Homo sapiens: one gene and its partners. The protein of the gene in region 3 purifies or fractionates together with the protein of the main gene of each other region. This does not show direct contact. Each region holds a gene or a part of one and is shown on either strand. Other genes may lie near its edges.

Region 1 (3,500 bases), on a different chromosome or scaffold from region 3:
AGAGAGGCAAAGTGAAATTAAATTTCTCAGTGTGAGTCATGCAGACATATGAAAAGAATACCAACTTTTTTTTTCTTAAATGACAAGGTTTCACAATGTCACCCAGTCTGGAGTGCAGTGGTGTGATCATAGCTCACTGCAACCTCAAACTCCTGGGCTCAAGCTATCTTCCCCACCTCAGCCTCCCAAGTAGCTGGGACTACAGGTACTTGCCACCATGCCTAGCCAATGTATTTTTATTTTTGCAAGGATGGGATCTTGCTGTGTTGCCCAGACTCATCTTGAACTCCTGGCCTCAAGCAATCCTCCCACCTTGGCCTCCCAAAGTGCTGGAATTACAGGTGTTAGCCACCTTGCCAGTCCTGAAACCAATTTTTAAAAATTACAACTTGCCTAAGTATAGTCTCTCATTCCTGACTTACATGAGCTAATGTGGGGGAACTGGTTTGGTAACTGGATAATGTGGTGCTTTAAGTGAGAGGCAGTTTAGTGGTGGGGTAAAGAGCCTAGTCTCTGGTGCAGTACTGCCTGGATTCGGATCTTGGCTCTGCCACTCATTTGTTGTGTGAACATAACTAAGTTTATTTTCCTAGGCCTCTGTTTCTTCACCTATACAATGTGGATAACCCTCATAGAGTTGTTTAAAATAGGACCTATGTATGTAAATGCTTAGAATAAGGCCTGGCATGTAGTAAGCACTTGTTAAAAAACAGTAAAACAGGCTGGGCATGGTGGCTCATGCCTGTAATCCCAGCACTTTGGGAGGCAGAGGCAGGCGGATCACCTGAGGTCGGGAGTTTGAGACTAGCCTGACCAATACGGAGAAACCCCGTCTCTACTAAAAATACAAAATGAGCCAGGCGTGGTGGTGCATGCCTGTAATCCCAGCTACTTGGGAGGCTGAGGCAGAAGAATCACTTGAACCTGGGAGGCGGAGATTGCGATGAGCCGAGATCAAGCCATTGCACTCCAGCCTGGGCAACAAGAGCGAAACTCCATCTCAAAAAACAAAAAAACCCAGTAAAACATGACAATAACAAACGTTCAATAAGCTCTCACTATGTGCCCAAGCACGGTAGTAAGAATATAAACATATGTTCATGTTGTCCTGGGGAAAAAAAAAAAAAGAGAATATGAACAATATAAAACAAAGGATTAGGTAAGGAAAAAAATGAGACAACAACAGAAGAACATAGGAAGGAATACACAGGCCTCACAAACCAGAGGAAATTCTCATGATTTTATAATGTTAGTGTGAATTCATAGTCATCTCTCAGAAGACAATATCCCATCTATGGGTGATAGCAGTTTCAGTCTCCAGCATACAATTCATTTGGCTCCCCGACTGTGTAATAACTTCTCTAATCAATAGGTCACAAGAGTGTCAAATGCATTAGCACTAAATTTATATCAAAAAGTATAATTAGAAGGAAAGGTAAAATTACGACTTTAAGAAGGCTTTTGGATTACCTACAGATTTATCTATCTTCCTTTTGGTCCTCTATCATCAGAGGTAATTTAAAAGTTTGTTGCATTTTCAAATCAAAACCACAACGCAATGCCACCTTACTCCTGCAAGAATGACCATAATCAAAAAACAGTAGATGTTGGCATGGATGTGGCCATCAGGGAACACTTCTACACTGCCGGTGGGAATGTAAACTAGTACAGCTGCTATGGAAAACAGGGTGGAGATTCCCTCAATAACCAAAAGTAGAACTACCATTTGATCCAGCAATCTCACTACTGGGGTTCTACCCAGAGGAAAAGAAGTCATTCAAAAAAGATACTTGCACACACGTTTATAGCAGCACAGTTCACAACTGCAAAATCGTGGAACCAACCCAAATGCCCATCAGTCAACGAGTGGATAAAGAAACTTGTATATACGTATATATGATGGAATACTACTCAGCCATAAAAAGGAATGAATTAACAGCATTTGCAGTGACCTGATGAGATTGGAGAGTATTATTCTAAGTGAAGTAACTCAGGAATGGAAAACCAAATGTAGTATGTTCTCACTGATATGTGGGAGCTAAACCATGAGGACGCAAAGGCATAAGAATGATACAATGGACTTTGGGGACTTGGGGGAAAGGCTGGGAGGGGGTGAGGGATAAAAGACAACAAATATGGTGCAGTGTATACTGCTTGGGTGATGGGTGCACCAAAATCTCACAAATCACCACTAAATAACTTATTAATGTAACCAAATACCACCTGGACCCCAGTAACTTATGGGAAAAAAAAGTTTGTAGCATTTGGCCAGGTAGGGTGGCTCACGCTTGTAATCCCGGCCCTTTGGGAAGCAGAGGCAGGTGGATCCTTGAGGCCAGGAGTTCGAGACTAGCCTGGGCAACATGTTGAAACCCCGTCTCTACTAAAAATATGAAAATTAGCCGAGTGTGGTGGCATATGCCTGTAATCCCAGCTACTTGGGTGGCTGAGGCAGGATAATCGCTTGAACCTGTAAGGCGGAGGTTGCAGTGAGCTGAGATGGTGCCACTGCATTCCAGCCTGGGTGACAGAGTGAGACTCTGTCTTAAACAAGTTTGTTACATTCAGAACAGGTACATGAAGATCTATTCCAGAAAAAGGGGCAGAAACTATTCAGAGGGTGCTGAAGTGAACTTGGGAGGAAGGAAAAAGGGAAGCCTTCTGTGTGGCCTCTGCTTTTTGGGAATGGAAAAAGAAACTGCAATTGGATTAAATAGTTGTTTCCATTAAGACCTAATTTTGTAAATGTCTTGAAATGCAATGTGTCATGAATGCCCAAAAAGCAGTAATGGCTCTTTATTATTTTACCTTTTTCCAGAGGGACCAGATGGCATACTTAGTGTTTTCTGTAAACTGAATTTACTGGCAGGAACATTTTCAGCTGACTGGGATAAACTGATGCTTCGATTCCTGAAGAACTCAAATCCACCACTTGAACTGGGTTCCTAGGATTACACACCATATGCAGTACCATTAGAGAAAGATGCTACGTGGGTGTATGGCCTAGAGAAGATGTGTAACTTTTGCAACTAACCTGAGCTGTGGGTGTGGATGGAGGTGTCTCAGATTCTCCAGAGCCAATGGCTTTAAGAAATCGAATCATGTGTCGACAAAGGTCCCACTTGCCTTGTTCTAGTGCTGTGTTGAATAGAAGGGTAGCATGTTGCCTACTTACTGCAGGGACTTCCATATTCTACAAAAAACAACCAGGACAGCATTCTTTTTATACTACACAATTTGGGAAGATATGAGCAATTCTTTATCTCGTTTTCTAAACTCAAAGAATGTAGCCACACCACCACAGGGGTTAGTTTAATAATAAGATTAAAAAGTACCATACAAGGAAAAGCGAGGCAAGTACTCTTCTGGTGTATGTAAACTATAATTTATTAAACTCCTACTACATGCCAGATAGCATACATATACTTTAAGTCATTTCATTTATTTCTCCCAGTGACTCTGCAGATAGGCATATCATTTGTATTTTACAAGTGAGGAAA
Region 2 (3,500 bases), on a different chromosome or scaffold from region 3:
TCACGCCTGTAATCCCAGCACTTTGGGAGGCCGAGGCGGGCGGATCACGAGGTCAGGAGATCGAGACCATCCCGGCTAAAACGGTGAAACCCCGTCTCTACTAAAAATACAAAAAATTAGCCGGGCGTAGTGGCGGGCGCCTGTAGTCCCAGCTACTTGGGAGGCTGAGGCAGGAGAATGGCGTGAACCCGGGAGGCGGAGCTTGCAGTGAGCCGAGATCCCGCCACTGCACTCCAGCCTGGGCGACAGAGCGAGACTCCGTCTCAAATAAAAAAAAAAAAAAGAATGAATGAATGGACTGATGTACAGATAGAATGGCGAATGAATGAATGAATGGATGGATACACAAATAAATGAGTAACTTGTAACCCTAAGAGCAGAGATAACTGATGGCCACTGGTCAGAACAAGGCTCCCCATCCACACGCGCCTGGCCTCCTTCCTTCCCAGGCCAACCCCTCCCTCTCTGACCCCGAAGTGGCAGACCTGGCTGGCAGGGAATGCAGACGCCGTCGGGCCCCCGGATCAGCTCCATGGTGTCCTCGTTGACACGTACCAACCGGATGGGGTACACGAAGGACAGGATGCGGCTATTGAAACCACAGGCCCCCACCTGCGAAGGCCAAGACTTGGGCCTGGGCTCTCTCACCATGGGCCCAAAACTGGACAATGAGGGGGAAGTGGGACTCCAGCACCCACACTCTCACGCTCGAACTCTGCCCTCCCCTCTGCATCCAGTGCCTTCTGTGGGCCATCCCTGCAGCAGCCTCGCCCATCCCCAACCTGGCCGCACCTGGCTGTCGAAGTTGCCCAGGCTACAGTTGCACTCTGTGGCCCCGTAGAACTCAGCCACCTGGGGTATGTGGAAGCGGCTGGAAAAGTTGGTCCAGATGGACTGCCGGAGGCCATTGCCTAGTGCCATGCGAACCTGGTGCTGGTTTTCTGCCTCCCGCGGTGGCTGGTTCAGGAGGTAGCGGCACAGTTCACCAATGTACTGCACAATCTGGGGGTGAACTTGGTGTGATTCGAGGCTCCAGAGGCTGCCCTCACTACACTAGGATTCTCCTGATCCCTCAAGCCCCTACTCTCCCCAGGGGCTGGCCATGCCATCCTTTCCCTCTCCGGGTCTCAGCCTTCCCATCTGAACAATGGGAACTTTGCCACAAATGAGCCCTTTGGAATGACTGGCCACCTCAGCTATAAGACAGATGCCCCGGAGTGTAGTTGGGAAGAGGGTAACTAGGGGAAAGGGACAGCTCACCCTTCCCGCTCTCGCTCACCGTGCAGTTGTACTTGATACAATCGTCCCAGAACCGGGAGGCTGAGAACTTCTTCCGAATCACCACCGTCATGCCATGCAGCAGGCACTGGCCGATTCCCACGATGTTTCCTGGAGGCAGAGGGATGGCCCCTGAGGGTCAGCGAGATGAAGACCCTCCCCGGCCCCAAATCAGTGATACTGCCATCCAGCCAGGCAGGCTTGTGCTGCCCTGCAGGCTTCTGCACCTCACATCTGCCTGCCTTGGGTGACCTCCTCCAAGAAGCCTCCCCGGCTTCCATCACCAGGCTCTTCCCTGGTGCTGCCCTCTTGCTCCCTGCCTCTCTCCTACACTCACATATACACCCGACTCTAAGCACCTGGAGGGCAGGAGCTATATTTATTCAAGCTGTCTTCCCTTAAGCCCCTACAAACAAGCAGCAATGCCATGCATATCTGTGGAAACAAACTGAAATGAGACAGGCCCAGATGCCCCGTGGGACACTGCCACACACACTGTGAGGCTGGTGTGCTCATCCTTTTTTCAATTTAAAACAACTTTTTTTTTTTTTTTTGAGACGGAGTCTCGCTCTGTCGCCCAGCCTGGAGTACAGTGATGCCATCTCGGCTCACTGCAAGCTCCGCCTTCCGGGTTCATGCCATTCTCCTGCATCATCCTCCCGAGTAGCTGGGACTACAGGCGCCCGCCACCACGCCCGGCTAATTTTTTTTTTTTTTTGTATTTTTAGTAGAGATGGGGTTTCATCGTGTTAGCCAGGATGGTCTTGATCTCCTGACCTCGTGATCCGCCCGCCTCGGCCTCCCAAAGTGTTGGGATTACAGGCGTGAGCCACCACACCTGGCCTAAAACAAAATTTTTTTTAGAGACAGGTCTCACCATGTTGCCCAGGCTGGCCTTAAACTCCCAGGCTCAAGTGATTCTCCTGTCTCAGCCTTCCCAGTAGCTGAGACCATAGGCATGTGCACCACGCCTGGCTAATCCTGTTTATTTTTATTTTTAAATTAAATTAAATTAATTTATTTATTTATTTTGAGACAGAGTCTTGCCCTGTCACCCAGGCTGATGTGCAATGGCACGATCTAGGCTCACTGCAACCTTTGCCTCCTGGGTTCAAACCATTCTCCTGCCTCAGCCTCCTGGGTAGCTGGGATTACAGGCACCCGCCACCAAGCCCAGCTACTTTTTGTACTTTTAGTAGAGACAGGGTTTCACCATGTTAACCAGGCTGGTCTCGAACTCCTGACCTCGTGATCCACTCACCTCCCAAAGTGTTGGGATTACAGGCGTGAGCCACTGCGCCCAGCCTATTTTTATTTTTTTTGAGACAGTGTCTCGCTCTGTTGCCCAGGCTGGAGTGCAGTGGCGTGATCTCAGCTCACTGCAACCTTTGCCTCCCAGGTTCAAGCAATTCTCATGCCTCAGCCTCACAGGTAGCTGGGATTACAGGCACACGCCACCAGACCCAGCTAATTTTTTTTTTTTTTGAGACAGTGTCTCGCTCTGTTGCCCAGGCTGGAATGCAGTGGCGTGATCTCAGCTCACTGCAACCTTTGCCTCCCAGGTTCAAGCAATTCTCGTGCCTCAGCCTCACAGATAGCTGGGACTACAGGCACACGCCACCACACCCAGATAATTTCTTTCTTTTTTTTTTTTCCGAGACAGAGTCTTGTACTGTTGCCCAGGCTGGAGTGCAGTGGCACGATCTTGGCTCACTGCAAGCTCCACCTCCCGGGTTCACGCCATTCTCCTGCCTCACCCTCCCGAGTAGCTGGGCCTACAGGCATGAGCCACCACACCTGGCTAATTTTTTGTACTTTTAGTAGAGACGGGGTTTCACCGTGTTAGCCAGGATGGTCTCGAACTCCTGGCCTCAAGTGATCCGCCCACCTTGGCCTCTCAAAGTGCTGGGATTACAGGTGTGAGCCACCACACCCAGCCTAATTTTTGTATTTTTAGTAGAGATGGGGTTTTGCCATGTTGGCCAGGCTGGTCTCGAACTCCTGGCCTCAAGTGATCCGCCCACCTTGGCCTCCCAAAGTGCTGGGATTACAGGTGTGAGTCACTGCGCCTGGCCCAAAGCTGTGTGTTTCTACTGCAGCACACTGCCTGATGGGGGTGGGGTTCCTAGAGACCTGGCAGGTGCTGGAGGCTGTGTGACAGCCCTAGAGTTACCTGCTGAGTGGTAGAGGGGGAGGCAGTCATAGACGATGTCGTTGGGCCG
Region 3 (3,968 bases):
AGCTCAGAGGGAGAAGTGGTCCCTGCTACCCTCTGTCCCCAGCTCGCCAGTCCCAGGCTGAATGTAATTGTCCTCGATGAAGCCATCATCATCCTCATCTTCAGCCACCTGTGGGCGGCCTCCCCTTCCTGTCTCAGGCAGTGGGCGGTGCCGGTAGCTGGCATGGTATCGGCGGCAGAGGTGGCATTTGGCAGCAAGTGCAATGAGGAGCGAGAGGACCACAGCCCCCAGCACAAATCCTACCAGCACAGGCCATGCCCGAGCCCCAGTGCCTGGGCCAGGGGCCACAGCAGACGCTGTGGGGAGCTCCGAAGGCCCAACAAGTGCTGCAGAGAAAGGGACAGCATTATAGGTGGGCCCCAGAGGGGGCTCCCTGGAGAAACCAAGAGCAGTGCAGGTAGGGTCCTTCCCCCAACCCCAGCATCTAAGGGGAAGCCCCCCACCCCCATCATCCTCCCACTGTCACTCACTTTTGTTTGTCTCATTCATGGAGGGGCCTGATGACACCAGTGAGTCTCAGCCTCAACCAGAAAGAGCCCTGGCTCTGAGGAGGCCCCCAGATGCCAGGCAGCCCCAGGGCACAAGTCCTAGAAAATAACATAGGTATGGGTGTCAGGGATGGTCACAGGGTGCACTTTCCAGGTCACACTCACAGCCATGGTAGCCCTGCACAAACTCTGGGGACTGGACAACTGACCACACCAGCTCTCCACAGAAGAGAAACAAGCTGAGCCTACAGAAACTGGCTATTTGTAAGGGACCATCACAGGGTTTGGCTCTGGAAGCTGCTAAAAAAAAAATAAATTGTAGAACTTACTGAGCATTCCTTATAATTCAAGCACCAGGCATCATGCTCACAAAACCCAGTAAGGTAAGTATAAACATTATCCCCACTTTATAGATGAGGGCTCTGAGGCTGAAAAAGGTGAACTGACTCAACTAAAGTCTTCAGATTCGAACCCAGAGCCCAGTCTGTTGCACTGCTTGGTAAGCTGAGGATGGGAGACAGGGGCAGAGGTGGGTCCTGGCTCCCGAAGGTCAGAAAACAGCAATTGCTTGGAGCTACCCAGCCAAAGCGGAGACCACATATGGGGAGGGTGATGCAAGTTGCTACTGAGGACAGGGGCCCTGGACACAGCCAGAGCAGCCCTGGCCCTTCTAAGTTGAAAGCCGCTGCTGCCCACCTCTACCCTCAGCCCTTCAAGCAAACCCCTGTCCTTTCACCTCTACTCAAAGGAGGCCCACACTCTGCCCCCACAGGGAGGCTCAAGCCAGGGAGTATCCAAATGAGGATCACCTGAATCAGGAAATTATCACCCAGGGCTGGGGACACCTAGAGGAGGAACACTTCAATTAGGGGAGTAGCTGGAGGAAGATCATCCAGGCATGGAAACACCTGTAGGAGGAGCACCTGGATCAAAGGAGTGTCTGGAGGAGGCGCACCTGAATCTGGGGAGTATCTAGAGGAGGAGCATGAAAGTTAGAAGTACCTGGCAGACGAACAGCTAGGGCAGGAGCATATCTGCCAGTGGAGCACCTGAACCAGGGGAGTCCTTGGGGGCAGAGTAGCCGGGCTAGGGAAGTACTTAGGAGAGAAGTTGAGGGGAGTACCCCAGTATATTCTTTGATACAAGTGCCTTCAAACCCCCCCCAACCTCCTCACATCCAACCTGGTATCAATCCCCATCATGTCTTCCACTAAACATCTCTGGAATGACAATACCCTCTTCTCCACCCCACTGCCACAGCTGAGTCCAAGCCACCTTCCTCTTGTACTCTAGCCATAATCTCCTAACTGGGCTCCCCACCTCTGGTCTCTTCCACAGAGTGATGGGCCTACAACCCAAATCTGACCCCATCACTAGCCTGGTTAAAATCCCTTCAAAAGCTCCCCATGCCCCACAGTGCCTTGCAATCCAGCACACGGCCCTCAAGCCAAACTCTTCTTCCTCTTCTCCACAGTTCCCTCCCCAGCACTTCAGACAGACACACATGCCCTCCTCCCACTCACCCACCCTCCTGCTCCCTGGCCACGCCCTCCTCAGTTTTTGGGGCGCCAGTCTGTCAAGGCCAAATCAGACCATACCTGCCTGTGAGGTTGTCCCTGGACCTACCCTGGATGACCTGTCACCATCCTGCCCAGTCAACCACCAGTCAGAACCAGTCATTGCTAGGCGGGCAGCTCCCCGTGGGCAACGGCTGGCTGAAGGATCTGTACCCTGGCGCTGCAGGGAGCTGGGCGTTCAGCCCCTCAGTGTGGTGCTTGTGAAATTAACGAGGGGAGCGTGAGAGTGAATATACAGGTGGGAGCGGGAGAGACGTCCTGGGAAGGAGAGGTCAGCTGCTCATTCATTCCTCAGCCTGCTGTGGGCCTCATCCTAGTACTAGGTCCGCAAAACATGAGAATGTGTTACACTGGAATGAACTGAATTCAATTTGACGTTTCTAAGGTTGTATTCCTATTCCTTTCCTCCCTGCCCTGTGAATTCTTCCCAAGAAGACACACACACACTAACCTTCCAAGGGTGCATATACACTCCCCAACAGGCCTCTGAACTCACAGCCCACACTGATCTGCCCATCCCCCATACGCACAGCCCCTCCCCCCAGGTCACACTTTCCTCCACCAACAAACACCCCTCTGACATGCACAGACACCTACCCCAACTCTGATGTGTAGCTTCCTTCCTGCTGCCAGAAGCCCCTTGGGTACTGTGCAGAGCCTGGGTACCCCCTCCCCGGCCCCCCCGGGCCTTCTCTTCTGTTCCCACCTTCAAGAACTGTGCACAATCCGCGGAGTAAGCTTCCGGCTGGGGCCGGCAGAACCTGGACAGGTGGGCGGGTCAAGGCAGAGCTTGACTCACCTGCGGAGGCAGTGGGCGGGGCTGAAGCTGCAGGTCTGGCAGAGGGCGGGCTGCGGCAGCGCCTCCAGTGGGGAGGGATAATTCTACCTCTCCCCCAAGCTTTTGCCAAGAACTTTATGGGTGTAGACCTCACCCTCACCCCCCAATGCTTGCGGTTTGTACAGCTGGGATCCAGAGAAGCGTCCAGCGGGCCCTAGAGGGGCAGACACCTCAGCAGGCAGGTGCTCAGGTTGATAAACAACTGAACGTCCGGTGACTGGTACAAAGTCCAGAGTTGAAGAGGGAGCTTTGCAGGCCTGTAAGGGTGGTGGGCTGGAACCAGAGCGGGTGGGGAGGGCATTCTTTCCAGGCAAAGCCAGGAGGACCAAGAACACTCCCAAATTGCCTACAAATGTGTGTGTAACTGTGTAGGGGGTGAGGGGTGGATCTGGATGGGGGCTCAGCCTTCATCTGGATCTCAGGATCCCGTGACCCCACAAGCCAGGCTCTGAACCTCTCCCGGGTGCTCTCTGATTCCCTTTAGCTTTACTCCTCGTCTCTGGGCCTGGTGCCCCCTGTTCTTCAAGCTCCAGTTCAGGAATCACCTTCCCTGAGTCCTCCCTCTACCCTGCAAGTCCCCACTCTTCCATGCCCAGAGCACCCACTGTCGCAGCATTCCTCATTATCTTGTGATTATTCGCTCTCCTGGGGTGGGGCCAGGCTTTGACAGCCTGTGGCTCCCAGCACAGTACTGACCCAGGGCAGGCTCCCCGTAACTACCTAAGGGAGGAAGGACCGCACGCGCCAAGGCCTGGAGGCCCCGAATTCGCAAGGATAGGCCGGGCACAGTGGGAGCAAGGGCTGCAGAGAGGCCAAGTATGGTGGCTCACGCCTGTAATCCCAGCACTTTGGGAGGCCAAAGCGGGTTGATTGCTTGAGCCCATGAGCGGAGATCAGCCTGGGCAACATAGGGAGACCCCATCTCTACTAGAAACACAAAAATTAGCTGGGCGTGGTAATGCTCACCTGTAGTCCTAGCTACTGGGGAAGCTGAGGGGGGAGGACTGCCTGAGCCCAGAAGTTTTAGGCTACAGTGAGCCATGATTGCGCCATCACACTCCAGCC
Region 4 (3,500 bases), on a different chromosome or scaffold from region 3:
TGTGAACCACCGTGCCCAGCCTGAAGCAGACAGCTTTTTTTTTTTCTTTCTTTTTGTGTAGACCTCCTCTGCGGTCAAGATAAGTGTTTTAAGGCTAGGCACAGTAGCATACATTTGTAATCCCAGCAACTTCGGGAGGCTACAGCAGGAGGCAGGAAGATCACTCGAGCGCAGGAGTTCGAGACCAGCCTGGGCAACATGACAAAACCCTACCTCCACAAAAAAATACAAAAACTAGCCGGGTATGGTGGTATGTGCCTCTAGTCCCAGCTGTGCGAGAGACTGAGGTTCCCTTGAGCCTGGGAGGTGAGCGGAGATCACACCACTGCATTCCAGTCTAGGCAACAGGGCAAGACCCTGTCTCAAAAAAAAGAGAAGAAAACAGTGTTTTAAATGGATAAAATATTTAGTTAATATTTAGAGGAAAACTATGATTATAGATTAATGTTACTATCTAGTTTCACCAGTTAGAAACAGAAACTGAAAAGATTTTGTCAATGGATTAAAAATAATAAGCCCAGCTGGGTGTGGTAGCTCACAACTGTAATCTCAGCACTTTAGGAGGCCTAGGCGGCTGGATCACTTGAGGTCAGGAGTGCGAGACCAACCTGGCCAACATTGTGAAACCCCATCTCTACTAAAAGTACAAAAATTAGCCGGCGTGGTGGCACGCGCCTGTAGTCCCAGCTACTAGGGAGGCTGAGGCAGGAGTATCGCTTTAACCAAGGAGGCAGAGGTTGCAGTGAGCTGAGATCGCACCATTGTACTCCAGCCTTGGCAACAAGAGCAAGACTCTGTCTCAAAAAAAAAAAAAAAAATACACCCAGATGCAGCGGCTCAAGCCTTAAATAAGTTTGGGGTGACCCCCACTGACCCTGGTTAACCACACTCCACCCCAGAGAACTCAGTATTTTTCTTTCAAAGCACTCATCATACTTCTCTTACCTGGCAGAAAGAAAGCTATTTAAGGCCAGGAAGATGTCTGCTGTGTCCCCTGAGCCAAATGGATGAAAGAGAACTTAAAAGACAAGTAAGATAACTCACAATCAAGATCTGAATTTTCCGACAGACTTCATCATCCATAATCACTAACCAATCTTGTAGCGAGTGTGCCCAAATGCTTGTCCCCAAATCCAGCTGCTATACACACAAATGACTTAAGAAATGTATTTACACAATGTGGCTGTGTCACCACCAAGAACACGCTGGGCATTTGACAGCAATTCAACATGAGCTTCAGAGACACCCACAACAGCCAATGAGGCAGATGTTTCAGCTGAGCAAAGCAGATGTCAGACAAGGACAGCTACTGTGTCCAGTTGTTTACAGCAAGCAGCTATTTCTCTCTCCACCAAGAATAATCTCAAGACAAAGAACAGGCCCATAACCATTTTTCCAGAACCACTTTAAAGATCATGGTTCCATGACAAAGGCAAAAGTATCACAGCACATGCAGTCAGCACTCAAAAGCCCAAACACAAGTTCCTTTCCTTTGCAGAACTGAAAAACTTTTACAGTACTTGAGAAGGGCTCACAATGCCTCCTAAAAATAAGTTGAGGGCGAACAGCTGATAGGCAACTATTACACAGAATAAGTTTTGTAGTCTGTCCAGAAAATACCATGGAGTAAGCCTTTCTCCTGAATTCCAAGGCAGATTTCCTGCAACTCCCCCACAAATTAGTGTTAATTTTTTTTTTTTTTTTTTGAGACGGGGCCTAGCTGTGTCACCCAGGCTGGAGTGCAGTGGCGCAATCTCCACTCATTGCAAGCTCCGCCTCCTGGGTTCATGCCATTCTCCTGCCTCAGCCTCCCGAGTAGCTGGGACTACAGGTGCCCGCCACCACGTCCGACTAGTTTTTTTTGTATTTTTAGTAGAGACGGAGTTTCACCACGTTAGCCAGGATGGACTCGATCTCCTGACCTCGTGATCCACCCACCTCAGCCTCCCAAAGTGCTGGGATTACAGGCGTGAGCCACCGCATCCGGCACAATTTTTATTTATTTTTATTTTTATTTTCTTGAGTCAGAGTCTTGCTCTGTCGCCCAGGCTGGAATGTAGTGGTGCAATCTCAGCTCACTGCAACCTCTGCCTCCTGGGTTCAAGCGATTCTCCTGCCTCATCCTCCCGAGTAGCTGGGACTACAGGTGCCCGCCACTATGCCCGGCTAATTTTTTGTATTTTTTAGTAGAGACGGGGTTTCACTGTGTTAGCCAGGATGGTATTTTTTTTTTATTTTTGAGACGTAGGCTCGCTCTGTCGCCCAGGCTGGAGTGTAGCGGAGCGATCTCAGCTCACCGCAACCTCCGCCTCCTGGGTTCAAACAACTCTCCTGCCTCAGCCTCCTGAGTAGCTGGGACTACAGGCACGTGCCATGACACCCGGCTAATTTTTTTTTTTTTGTAGAGATGGGGTTTCACCATGTTAGCCAGGATAGTCTCGATCTCCTGACCTCGTGATCCACCCACCTCAGCCTCCCAAAGTGTTGGGATTACAGGCTTGAGCCACCACGCCCAGCCAGGGATTTTTTTTTTCTTTTTTTTTTTTTTTTTTTTTGAGACGGAGTCTCACTCTGTCGCCCAGGCTGGAGTGCAGTGGCACGATCTCTGCTCACTACAACCTCCGCCTCCCGGGTTCACGCCATTCTCCTGCCTCAGCCTCCGGAGTGGCTGGGACTACAGGCACCCGTCACCACGCCTGGCTAATTTTTTGTATTTTTAGTAGAGACGGGATTTCACTGTGTTAGCCAGGATGGTCTCGATCTCCTGACCTCATGATCTGCCCCCCTTGGCCTCCCAAAGGGCTGGGATTACAGGCGTGAGCCACCGTGCCTGGCCAGAACAGTAATTTATTAATGCATTCATTAATAAATTAGGCCTGGCCCTAGCTAACTAATCAGATTCCCAGAGATTACGGCCAGCACCCCAGCTGAAATCATAGGACCAGGCACTCTTGTCCCACAGGAGTGGTAAGCTGCATAGTGGTTTAAAAATGTTCGGACAGGGGCGGGGGCGGTGGTTCATGCTTCTAATTCCAGCACTTTGGGAAGCCAAGATGGGCAGATCACTTGACATCAGGAGTTCAAGACCAGCCTGGCCAACATGGCGAAACCTCGTCTCTACCAAAAACACAAAAATTAGCCCGGCATGGTGATGCACACCTGTAATCTCAGCTACTCAGGAGGCTGAGGCAGGAGAATCGCTTGAACCTGGGAGGCGGGGGTTGCAGTGGGCCAAGATGGAGCCACTGCACTCCAGCCTGGGCAACAGAGCGAGAATCCATCTCAAAATAAATAAATAAATAAAAATAAATAACATAGGCCAGGCACGGTGGCTCAAGTCTGTAACCCTAGCACTTTGGGAGGCCGAGGCGGGAGGATCACCTGAGGCCAGGAGTTTGAGACGAGCCCAGCCAACATGGTGAAACCCCGTCTTTACTAAAAATAAAAAAAATAGCTGGGCGTGGTAGTACGTGCTTGTAGTCCCAGCTCCTCCAGAGGCT
Region 5 (3,500 bases), on a different chromosome or scaffold from region 3:
CACTGCATGCAGCCCACTCGATAATGCCACCTCTGCATAACCATGTGTGGACAAGATAGCCAAACCGTAAGTAACCCAAGGTCACTGATGGAAACATCAATACTCCTCCCCCTTTTATTTTCTAGTTACTAGACAAAATTTAATTATTGTAGTAAGTAGTGAAAAGCAAGCCCTGGGGCAAGAGCAGACTTTGGGAGTATATCCTGTCTCCACCACTTCCTGGAAGTATGGTTGTAGGCATGCTTCAGTTTTCTCGTTTCTAAAAGCAGGATGGGGAAGTGGGCATTTATATGTGCAAAATAGAGTAGATGTGAGAATCAAACAGGAAGAGGCATGTGTAGCAAGCAGCCCAGTGCCCTGATGGAGGCAGTGGTGACACCTTAAGTGAGGGTCAGGAAAGAATCAGGGCCCCACCCTACATTCAGCATATCCCACACTTTGGCAACAATCAAGCAGAACTGGAGCCTACCCTCACAGAGGCCAGAAGGCAGTTCATTGTCAAATGAGATCATGCACTGGATTACAAGGGGTTCACAAACTATGAGAGTATCACCGTCATCGGCAAGTGTTCATTGGGTAGCTGGAGCAGTCATTTATTGTTGCCTTTATGAAGATGCTCCTGCTGGCTTACAAACTTCCTGCAAGGAGAAGTTAATGCAGGGAGATGGCAGCGTAGCAATTAAACAGATTGTAGTAGTTACCATCCATTAGACCTAGAAAACAAGTTAGCCACCTCCCTGTGAAGATCCACTGACTCCTTGAGCTTCACTTCCTTACTCATCTGTAAAACAGAGTGGACCACAATTTGGAAGCAGGGCGGGTAGTTCTCACAGTCTCTTTACAAGCAGCTATGTTTTTGAGGGCCCAAGTCTGATTGAGGTAACCCAATGAGTGTCATGCTCCATTAATGAGACAGGTGCCAGAAGGGGCTCATAGAAGAAGGAATGCTCAATTTTTATTTATTCATTAGTTAGTTTGTTTGACAGGGTCACACTCTGTCACCCAAGCTGGAGTGCAGTGGTGCAATCTTATCTCACTGCAGCCTCAACCTTCTGGGCTCAGGCGATCCTCCTATCTCAGCTTCCCAAGTAGCTGGGACTATAAGCACACACTACCATGCTCGGCTAATTGTTTAAGATTTTTGTAGAGATGAGGTCTCGCTATATTGCCCAGGCTAGTCTCGAACTCCTGGGCTCAAGCCATCTGTCTGCGTGGGTCTCCCAAAGTGTCCTTACAGGCGGGAGCCACCATGCCCAGACTTGTTTTTAAAGAATAGGTATTATGGGTGCCCAGAAGCCAGTGAAAGGAAAGTCTGCTTAGAGTGCCTTTTTTGAGTGTTTTTGTTTGTTTGTTTTGTTTTTTTTTAAAGAGTCAGAGATTAGAGATCCTAGTCCATCCCCCTCACTTTAGAGAGGAAGATGCTAAAGCTAAGTTGAAGTAACTTCTCCTCAGGTCCCTCAAATGTGTGTAAGGGAGCAGGAAGTACAACTCCTATTTCCTGCTTGTGCATTTGTCTCATTCCAACTTTGGGTGGAAAAAAAAAATCCATGTGCTGTGCTAAAAAGTGCAGTCTGTGACGGCAAGCAGAGCCGTTTTGAATCCTGGCTCCACCACCACCTCACTCAATGCGACCTTGGGAATATTCCCCAACCCCTCTGAGCCTTACTTTTTCCATCTCTGCAATGGCGAATAAAAGCTGCCATGCTGGGTTGCTGTAAGAATTAAAACGAGCTGCTTTGCGTAGTCCTGAAGCATAATAGGCATTCAGTTAATGTTGATGCCCATCTCCATTGCTGTAGCCAGTACTGCATGTTTTGCCTAAAACATAAGTTTTCAACAAAATGTCAAAAGGACTTAAATTTTCACATTTGTAAAACAGGAAAATTTGACTAAAATCTACCACATGGTCTTTAATATTTCTCCCAGCTCTAAAATTCTGATTTTTTTTAACCAGTTACTCTTACAAGTGGCTTGTTTTAAACTTGTCTCAATTTTTCTGTTCATTGCAATGTATAAATGATACCCATGAAAAGGGAAAGTAGACCGTGTTACCCAAATGAGTGGTGTCTTCTACGGATTTCCAATGTTTGTAACATTTATTATGTCACACTGTACATGAGTGTGTCTTTTTTTTCCCCCAATTAAAAAAAATTTATAGAAACAAGGTCTCACTATGTTGGCCAGGCTGGTCTCTAACTCCTGGGCTCCAGTGATCCTCTTGCCTCAGCCTCCCAAAGGGTTGGGATTGCAGATGTGAACCACTACACCTGGTTCGGGTGCATATTTTTTTTTAGTAGATTAGTAAAGCCAGGAGCTGGTAAAATAGCCAATTGTAATAAAATAGTTATAGTAAGTAGAGGAACTGTTAGCCTCCATGAGCTATCCAAATCCCAGACTGTTTTCTGAAATGAAGGACATTGGTAGGAGTCTGAGTGTGTGCATGAATGGGTTTTGTAAGAAGGTGGTCAGTTATGAGGCAAGAAGGAAATTTCGGTTTACCGACCACTTCCTGGTTTCCTCAATGAACTGTAATATGTGTAAGGTTTGGCTTGGAGGTACAATATTTTACTTTTTTTTTTTCCATTTGTTTTTTGTTGAAGGCTGAGTATGACAGAGACAAAAGGCAGTCAGAGGGAGACAGCCCCTGCTATAGAGAGAGAAACAGTGTAGACTTGTTGGTAGCAAAGATCTTATAAAACAGGCCAGCTCACTCTGCCTGTCTGGACACTTTCCTTGGCTAGCAGGGTGTGCCGCAGAAGATAAGGCACCTTTCTTCTGTTAGGCTTCATACCACACCCTTACCTTTTTGAAAAAGTTTAGTGACTCATCCTATTTTTTAATGAAATATTTCAAACACAGTGATTCATGATTCCCTCTTTGTTTTTCTGAGACTCATCTAAAAAGTGGGCATAAAATTTACAATCCTTTTGGATCCTTACACAAATAAAGGTAATTGTAGTGCAGGTGAATTAATTTTCTACTTGACCAATTTTGTTTCTAAAGCTTCTAAGGCAAAGATCATCTATTTGATCTTTGAGGTTGCAGGGCTGGCTTGTGAATACTTTAAGACTATCACTCTAAAATGTGAGAAGTTCTAAAAGAAACAAACACCACATTTTTAAGACTGTACGATTTAAACCATAGAAGGTTAATGTTATATTGATTAGAGTGAATTTCAGCTGAGAGTTATAGACATATCAGAAAAGATGCTACCCTCTTTCAGTGGACATTTTAAGTGATTGTTTAAGGGTAGACTGAACTATTTAACTGTGGTAAGAATTAGTTTAGGTGGGAATTCAGTGTTTAGGACAAGTTCAAGAGGATACCAGACCAGCCCTCAACAGCAGTCTAGCATAATAATAGATTTATTAAAATGTCACATATTCACTCGAAACAAATTTTGGCTTAAGCCAAAAGCATCCTATTTTAGAGTTTCTACTATTTTGCTGATGTTCATGACATCTGCTAAGAGGCTGATGAAATTGAGTTTCGATTTTATA
Region 6 (4,197 bases), on a different chromosome or scaffold from region 3:
AATACACAAATTACCTGGTCAAGGTAGCACACGCCTGTAATCACAGCTATACGGGAGCTGAGACACGAGAATCACTTTGACCAGGGAGGTGGAGGTTGCAGTGAGTCAGGATCAGGCCACTGCGCTCCAGCCTGGGTGACAGAGTAAGTCTCTGCTCAAAAAAATACATATATATTCAATAATTAATAATGCCTTCAAGACTCTCCCTCCTACACAGAACAGACCCTTTAAAGGAAGCCATCGGTAATTAGACTTGAGACTGACTTCTTCACCACTAACCAGATCTTGGTGGTACGGGGAATTTGTCTTCCAAGTGCTTATTAGTAAAATGCTCATACTTCTGAGTCAGGTATCATCCATGAGTGAATCGTTAGGTAAATATTTTAAATGGCTATCTGTAGTAGCCAGTCTCCAAGATGGCCCAATGATCCCCACCTCTTGGTATACACACCCTGATATTCACACCCTCTCCCCACATTGTACCAGTGTCAATCTGTGTGACCAACAGAATACAGCAGAGGCATGTCATTTCCAAGATAAGTTATACAAGACTGGCTAGAGTCTTGAGCTCTCTTGGATCACTTGCTCTGGGGGGAAAAACCAGTTGCCACATCAAACAGCCCTATGGAGAGTAACTAAGACCTGCCAACAGCCATGTGAGTGAGCTTAGAAGTGGATCCTCCCCTAATCCAGCCTTCAGATGACTGCAGCCCAAGCCAACAACTTGACTGCAACCTCAAGAAAGGCCTAATTCAGAACCACTCAGATTGTCCCACAGACACTATTTCCAGGTGATAAGTTTTGGGGTAATTTGCTACACAGCAATAGATAATTAATTCAGTGTCCCACACAGAACTGAGAAGGAAATGAGGTTTAACCCCCAGTTCCTACACTATTTTAAGACCAATTTTTGTCGATAAGAAAGCAAATTTATTCAGTTATTCAACATTTTTTGGAGACAGGGTCTCACTCTCTTGCCCAGGCTGGAGTACAGCGGTGCAATCATAGCTCACTGCAGCCTTGAACTCCCAGGCTCAAGCAATCCTCCCGCCTCAGCCTCCTGAGTAGCCTGGATTACAGGTGCATGCCACCATGCTGTGTGCGTATGTGGAAACGGGGTCTCGATATGTTGCCCAGGCTGGTCTCAAACTTTTGGTTCAGAGCAATCATCCCACTTCAGCCTCCCAAAGTGCTGGTATTACAGGTGTGAGCCACTGCACCTGGCCTCCATTAGCTTTTTTAATTTTCCTGTTCCTAATGCTTTGGAACTTCACTCCCTGCTTTCACAAACCCTCTGCAGAAGGTACATCAAGTCGCACTCTCTAGTGATTTTAAGTGCTCAGTGACCTTCTGACTGCAAGGAGGGCAGGTTATATTTTCTCATACTCCTTTTTCACTGTACCACATGGTGTCCCCTCTAACGGGAGAAGAAAGTTAGGTCCCCTGCTCCCATTAATATTGGGACAAGGGGGAATTCATTTAGTATTTTACTAGGGAGAGAAAATCTTGATCACAAGACCTGAGAACAATTCTAATTTCTGCAGTTAGTGACTAAGTGACGGCAGGAGCGGGGATACAATCACTGCTCAAGTCTCCTTCACAGCTGAAATGGCCATGGGGGTAGGGAGGAGGTCGTCCCTTACCCCTGCCTGGACTCTGCTGTCTCTCCAAGCAGCAGGAGGGTTGTGCTGCTCTAAGAAAATCTGGAGCCTCCCTCCGTACAAAGAAGGTCAAAGGGCGAGCTTTCTTTCCATCAACCACAAAACCAGCCTCTGCCAAACCTAAACAGAGTGGTAGGCCGTCGGAGGTGAATGGAGCCCCAGACAGAAAACCACAACGAGGCTCTCCTCCCGCCGCCGGCTGGGGTCTGAGTCAGGTGACTCCTCAGGACAAACAGCAAACCTAAACAAAGATCACTCCCCACATGACTGACTAGGGGGAAGAAGACTCTCGCTGTAAGCCCAGGGCTGCCCGGTCCCAGCACGGAAAGCCAGGAACTCCTGCTTTCTGTGCAGTCTCGGAAACTGGAGGAGCTACAAGTTATGCAGCAGCTCAGCCTGCAGGGATGCACCTGGAGGAACTCGGAACCCCATCCGAGGACACAGGCGCCCTGCCCTGAACACACGCCTCCCGCTCCAACACGCAGGCTGGACCCCTCCCCACCAGCTGTCACCGGTGCTTGCGACCAGTCACAGGCAGCGAAGCCTGTCCCTCTGCGGCTGCGACCCCGCGGAGGCGGCAGAGGAGACGCTTCGCCGAGGGCTCCGGGGCCAGGACACGCCCGTCCCCCGGGAAGGGGCGGCAGGGTGGGCGCGGCCCCAGGCCCACGAAGGCTCCGGATCCATCATCCCCCCCACGGGGAGCGAAATAAGCCTCCCACTCCCCGGCCCCAGGCGCCCCACCTTGTCACCGAAGCTGCGGGCCATCAGCAGGTCCGGGCTGGGCGTGCTGTCACCACCCACGGCCTCCTCGCTGCTGGAGCCGGCCAGCGGGTGCGGCATGTCGCGCAGGGAGTGGGGCCCCGTGGACGGCAGGGCCTTGGGGGGCCCGCCCGCCATGGCGCGCACCGCTCGGGACGCGCCGCCGCCGCTTCCTCCTGCTGCCCGCCGCGGCGAGCTCCCCGAGCACCCCGGGCCGAGCCCCGCTCGGCCGCCGCTTAACCCGAGGCCTTGCACCGGCCGTGCTGGGGGCCGCCGCCACCCGCCGGCTGGTCTCTGCCGGCGCTCAGACGCTCCGCTCCGCGCCGCGCGCCCCCGCTCCGCGCCCGAGCCCGCCGCGGGTCCGCTGGCAGCACGGCCGCGGCGCCCAGCCCACACAGCCACACCGCCCACCCGCTCCGGCCCCGCCCCCGAGGCGCCGCGGCCGCCCGGGAGGGGGCGGGGAGGGCGGGGAAGGGGCACGTGGGGAAGGAAGGACGGAGGGAGGGAGGGAGGAGGCGCGGCCCCGCCCCCGCCCGGCAGGAAGTGCGCCCTGGGCCTCTGCGGCTGTCCTCCCAGTGTCCAACGTTGCCTCGCGGAGGCCGCCGTGCGGAGCAAATGTCTAACGGAAATCAGAGGTGGAAAAGAGGTTGGAGGAGCCTGTTCCGTTCCACCCGCGTTTACTGATGCGCCCACCAGCAGCCACGCTTGGGGCTGGGGGCTTTGAGGACACGCACGTGAGTCAGGGTCTTCTGGCCTCTAAGGCACGCGCAGGAAGAACCCTAGATAGACGGAATTACGACCCATATCGGAAGAATAGCATAAAGGGCGACAAGGCTCAAATGAGCTAGAGGACATCGGGTGGGGAACCTGGAAGGGACTTCAAAGAGGCGGTGTGGGGAGTCTTCAGGCTCACTCTGAGGTCCCCATTGTGGCTTGCTTCTGCAGCTGAGCTGGATTTGTGTAAAGTCAAACCTCAGAACAGCGAGCATGAGTAGAGAGTCTCAAATGATATGCGACTCTTCAACTCACACTTTGGCCGAAGAGACTTTTGAAAGAACCATGAGGTTCAAGTTATTCTTCATGCATTTGTGCTTCCTTTCCAGGCCTTGGGCTGAGCTGATTCTCAGCTTTATTTGCTGGCGTGGTGCAAATAGTCAAGGTGTTACTTCCAGCCCTTTGGGGTGTAGGTTCACCTCCTTTTTCCACCTTACCTGTCCCTAGATCTTCTGTTTCCAAGGCCAAGTCTTTAAAGGGTTTTCAGTCCCTCTAGCAAAGTAATGGGTAGGGAGGCTCATCGTGAGGGACCACATTTTCCCTACCCATTCCAAACTCAAAGGTTTGCCTAGCCTTACCTGCTAAAAGGTGATGACAGATGTTGACTCTGGGATTCACTAAGGCCTCTACCACAGTTTTCTCTAGAAACAAATAGAAGAGAATGCAGAGGGTTGAAATCTACCCAAAATATCAGTCAGAGACTCTGAGCTTCAAAGACCTTCCCCTATTTCCCCCAATGTAATTTATATAGGGTTGGACCCTTAGTCCTCAAGCTATCATCTTTATCTCCTCCACATAAGCCTGCCTTGGCTGGGAAAAGTAGCATTCAAAGGGCACTGGGAACAATTTTAAATGCTGCATCTAAGGAATGCCAAGTTCTGGTCCTCTTGGAGTTGGATTAAAATTGTTAACACTTTCACATTCAAGGGCTGCTTACAACTACTACAGACCCTATTATCTGTTCTTCTGAATTAGCATGAAAATGAATAGCACAATATAACTA
Region 7 (3,500 bases), on a different chromosome or scaffold from region 3:
GTGCAGGCCCCACACCCCACTGCGGGCCCCACACCCCACTGCGGGCCCCACACCCCACTGCGGGCCCCACACCCCACTGCAGGCCTGCACACCCCACTGAGGACCCCACAACCCACTGCACACTGTCATCCTTCCTGTCTGTCCAGGCGTCCCTTACTCCCTTGGGCCCCTGCTCAATCCCTCCTCGCTCAGGTCTCCTTGGGCACAGCGTGAAGCTGCACCCCCCCCCACCACCCTACTGCAGGCCTTCACACCACCCCGGCTTTTCCTCTCCAGGGTGCTATCACCTCTGGCCCATGCCACGTTTCCCTCATTCTGCTCCTCTGTGGCCTGTGAGTGCCACGTGGGGGGAGGCTGTGTGTTCTCCCATCTCTCCCAGGCCTGGCCCAGGGAGGCACCAGCCATGGCTGTGCAGCTGCGTGGTGAAGGGCAGTGACAACACCTTACCTCCCACAGAGGAGCTGCCGCTCTCTCTGCCTTCCAAACGAGGAGACCAAGGCCCAGCAACAATAAGCCACCTGCCCAAGGTCACCCTCCTAGTGAGCCGGAGCTGGGGCTGGAACCCAGGCTGCCCCAGGGCCAAGGATGGAAGGGGTGGAGGAAGGAGCCCCAGCCTGGTCTCTGGGTGGCCCCAGGCACTCGGAGACCTGGGCAGGTTGCTTCAGGTCCTGGGCTACAAGTGCCCCACGTGCAGACTCTTGCAGGAAATCAAGGGCTGGGGGCAAGTGTGCTGGGATGCTGGCCACAGGGGCACAGGCCACAGGCACAGAAGGGGCATCTCAGAGCAGGCCCAGTGCAGGGGGGTCCCGCTCAGCCCCCACCGCAGAGCTTGTGGCTAGGATCTGCAGATGAGGTGGGGGAAGGGGTAACATGGTGCCTTGCCCTGCCCCTCCGCTTTGGGCCCACGGGGGGCCGACACCCCCAGACTCACCCCACCAGGATGCCCTTGGAGCTGCGGATGAGGCCAACCAGCACCAGGAGGCAGATGATGACGTCCAGCAGCAGCAGGCCCAGGTAGCCCAGCCACCTGCAGGCAAACCTGGGAGTGCGCCAGGGCACAGGGACCCGGGGCCTGGGAGTGGGGCGCCAGGGGCCCTTGAGGGGGAGCTGAGGCCAGCAGCCTGGCACCCCAGAGGGCATTCAGAGCGTCTGGGTCATGGGGACTGGTGTCAGTTCTTGAGAAAGGCTCCCATTAGGGGAACTCCAGCCACTGCCTGTGACCTCCAGTGGCCCTGGGCCACACCCTGCCCATCAGGCCTCATGTACTAGGTGCTGAGAGCAAAAATTGGCCCAAGGAGGGTGATGCTTTCCCACGTGGGGCGGGCAGGGAAGAGGGCCTGGCCGCACCTGTACCAGTCGTAGAGATCCACCTGCTCCGCCAGCACCTCCAGCGACACCGCCGTGTTCCTCCAAAAGGGGATGGCGGCCGTGTAGCCCAGCAGCGTCTCCAGCAGGCCCTGCAGCCTCTGTACGGCTCGCAGGGGCTCGGGCCGCCCGGCCAGCTGCCGCTCCAGGGTCTGCAGGCTGGGCTCCGCCGTGTGGTTCAGCCCCACCGCCGTGTCCCACACCTGCGCCGGACCCGCGGGCGTGAGGCTGGGAGCGCGCCCGCCTCGCCCCAGAGTCTGGGCCCCTCCTGCACAGCCCCAGTCCCGGCTGCCCCGCCCGTCCTCGCGCAGACGTGGGGCTCCGGAGCAGCAAGAGTGCTCCTGGCCCCAACTCCGCGGCCACTCACGCGGTCCTGGACCCCGGCCACCGTGCGGTTGGCGTGGCGGAGCGAGTAGGTGGCCCTATGGATGCCATCACTGGTCTCCCCGTTGCCGTAGAATCCCACTGCGATGCCGGCGCTGGAGAGGGCGGGCCCGTGAGATGTAGCCCCGCCCACCCACACACACCCCACTCCAGCCCCGCCCCCTCGGGCCGCCCCCTCTGGCCCCGCCCTCCGTCCCCGCCCCACCGCGCTCACCTGCACACCAGCGTGGCGATGATGACACACCAGGCCGTGCAGCAGCAGTCGGCGTCCAGGTGCTCCTCGCTCTTGCGCCGCCGGCAGCACAGCCAGAAGGAGTAGAAGAGCAGGAAGAGGAGGTCCAGGGCGAGGCAGGCCAGGGCGGCGGCCCCCAGGAGCAGCAGGGCCTGAGGGCAGGCAGGAAGCGGCGCTGGAGGGGTGGACCCCCAGCTCAGAGTCCCACGCCCCGCCCCAGCAGGGGACCTGGCGCAGACTCCCATTTAATCCTGCCCCCAGCCCTGGGAGGTGGGCCCCATCCCCGACTTGTAGGTGAGGCATGGAGTCTCCCACCACCTCAGTGATGCACCTGGGGTCACCCAGGCCTGGACCCCACACCTGGGACCCCGGTCTCGCCATCCTCAAGGCTGCACAGCATGAAGACTCCATAGCCACTAGGAGGGGCCGGGTGAACCGACTCCAGGCTTCTGTGGCTCCAGCAAGGGCACATGTCCCCTCCCCACCGGGTCCCCAGAGTCCAGGGCAGGTGCTCAGGACGTCTGCCCCACCAGGCCCCAAGGAGAGGCGCTGGATGGAGGTAGCCAGAGAATGTGGGTGACAAACGAGGACGCTGCTGGTGAGCCACCATCTTTGCAGCCACAGCCCCACTAGGGAGGTCCCTCCACCTCTCCGAGCCTGGTTTATCTTCTGTAGAAAGAAGTGCTGCTGAGCAGGGCAGGGTGGCTCACGCCTGTAATCCCAGCACTTTGGGAGGCCGAGGCGGGCGGATCACCTGAGGTCAGGAGTTTGAGACCAGCCTGGCCAACGTGGCGAAACCCCATCTCTACTAAAAGTACAAAAATTAGCCAGGCCTGGTGGCGGGTGCCTGTAATCCCAGCTACTCAGGAGGCTGAGGCAGGAGGATCACTTGAACCCGGGTGGCGGAGGTTGCAGTGAGCCGAGATTGCACCACTGCACTCCAGCCTGGGCGACAAGAGCGAGACACTGTCTAAAAAAAAAAAAAGTGCTGCTGCTCCCCCGAAGAAGCGAAGCCCTGGGGAGGGGGCTGCCGGCATCAGCTACTGTCCTCACCCCCAGCCCGAGACAGCCCCAGGACCCCAGAGCCCGTCCCCGTCTCAGGCCCAGAACTCTCCTACCTGAGTCCTGGCAGGATCCCCCACCCCAGCTGTAGTCCTGAGGTTTTCAGGTCTGGTAGGGAAATTGGGAGCCTGTGGGGGACTGAACCCCCTCTTGCTGACCATGAAAGTGTTTCTGAGGGGTGAACATGGAAGAGGCCCCATCAGGAGTCTGATCCTGTCTGGGGTCTGTGCACCGAGAAGCTGCACTCAGGGGTGGGCACCGTCCATGGCGTGCCCCCACGCTGGATGAGATGGTGGGGCTGGCCCCACACTGCTACAGGCTGCATACAGGCGCCCCATCGGACACACAGCCCTGTCTGGCTCCAAGCACGGCCTTCCAGTGTGGCTCTCCCCAGGTCTCTGAACACAAAAGACAGACCACAGAACAGACACCAGAGCTCCCCTGTCCCGAGGCCAGG

The links.
Region 1: the proteins of C1orf210 (region 3) and RIC1 purify together in Homo sapiens (affinity purification with mass spectrometry; one large-scale study listed by BioGRID and IntAct). This does not show direct contact.
Region 2: the proteins of C1orf210 (region 3) and SLC27A4 purify together in Homo sapiens (affinity purification with mass spectrometry; one large-scale study listed by BioGRID and IntAct). This does not show direct contact.
Region 4: the proteins of C1orf210 (region 3) and FAM234A purify together in Homo sapiens (affinity purification with mass spectrometry; one large-scale study listed by BioGRID and IntAct). This does not show direct contact.
Region 5: the proteins of C1orf210 (region 3) and ZDHHC3 purify together in Homo sapiens (affinity purification with mass spectrometry; one large-scale study listed by BioGRID and IntAct). This does not show direct contact.
Region 6: the proteins of C1orf210 (region 3) and SNX30 purify together in Homo sapiens (affinity purification with mass spectrometry; one large-scale study listed by BioGRID and IntAct). This does not show direct contact.
Region 7: the proteins of C1orf210 (region 3) and TTYH3 purify together in Homo sapiens (affinity purification with mass spectrometry; one large-scale study listed by BioGRID and IntAct). This does not show direct contact.

The regions. Positions count from the first base shown.
Region 1 is NC_000009.12:5,765,107-5,768,606, reverse strand, and holds part of RIC1 (guanine nucleotide exchange factor subunit RIC1), read right to left. Parts: intron 3,194-3,500; coding exon 3,035-3,193; intron 2,946-3,034; coding exon 2,809-2,945; intron 1-2,808. UniProt on the Homo sapiens protein: The RIC1-RGP1 complex acts as a guanine nucleotide exchange factor (GEF), which activates RAB6A by exchanging bound GDP for free GTP, and may thereby be required for efficient fusion of endosome-derived vesicles with the Golgi compartment.
Region 2 is NC_000009.12:128,350,527-128,354,026, reverse strand, and holds part of SLC27A4 (long-chain fatty acid transport protein 4), read right to left. Parts: coding exon 3,452-3,500; intron 1,390-3,451; coding exon 1,280-1,389; intron 1,003-1,279; coding exon 793-1,002; intron 613-792; coding exon 486-612; intron 1-485. UniProt on the Homo sapiens protein: Mediates the levels of long-chain fatty acids (LCFA) in the cell by facilitating their transport across cell membranes. Appears to be the principal fatty acid transporter in small intestinal enterocytes.
Region 3 is NC_000001.11:43,282,782-43,286,749, forward strand, and holds the start of C1orf210 (type III endosome membrane protein TEMP), read right to left. Parts: upstream 2,801-3,968; 5' UTR 2,663-2,800; intron 588-2,662; 5' UTR 490-587; coding exon 471-489; intron 327-470; coding exon 4-326; 3' UTR 1-3. UniProt on the Homo sapiens protein: May be involved in membrane trafficking between endosomes and plasma membrane.
Region 4 is NC_000016.10:237,821-241,320, reverse strand, and holds part of FAM234A (protein FAM234A), read right to left. Parts: intron 1,112-3,500; exon of another isoform or gene 1,045-1,111; intron 1-1,044.
Region 5 is NC_000003.12:44,966,175-44,969,674, reverse strand, and holds part of ZDHHC3 (palmitoyltransferase ZDHHC3), read left to right. Parts: intron 1-3,500. UniProt on the Homo sapiens protein: Golgi-localized palmitoyltransferase that catalyzes the addition of palmitate onto various protein substrates.
Region 6 is NC_000009.12:112,749,363-112,753,559, reverse strand, and holds the start of SNX30 (sorting nexin-30), read right to left. Parts: upstream 2,801-4,197; 5' UTR 2,559-2,800; coding exon 2,403-2,558; intron 1-2,402. UniProt on the Homo sapiens protein: Involved in the regulation of endocytosis and in several stages of intracellular trafficking. Together with SNX4, involved in autophagosome assembly.
Region 7 is NC_000007.14:2,645,486-2,648,985, reverse strand, and holds part of TTYH3 (protein tweety homolog 3), read right to left. Parts: intron 2,134-3,500; coding exon 1,964-2,133; intron 1,845-1,963; coding exon 1,733-1,844; intron 1,569-1,732; coding exon 1,348-1,568; intron 1,028-1,347; coding exon 932-1,027; intron 1-931. UniProt on the Homo sapiens protein: Calcium-independent, swelling-dependent volume-regulated anion channel (VRAC-swell) which plays a pivotal role in the process of regulatory volume decrease (RVD) in the brain through the efflux of anions like chloride and organic osmolytes like glutamate.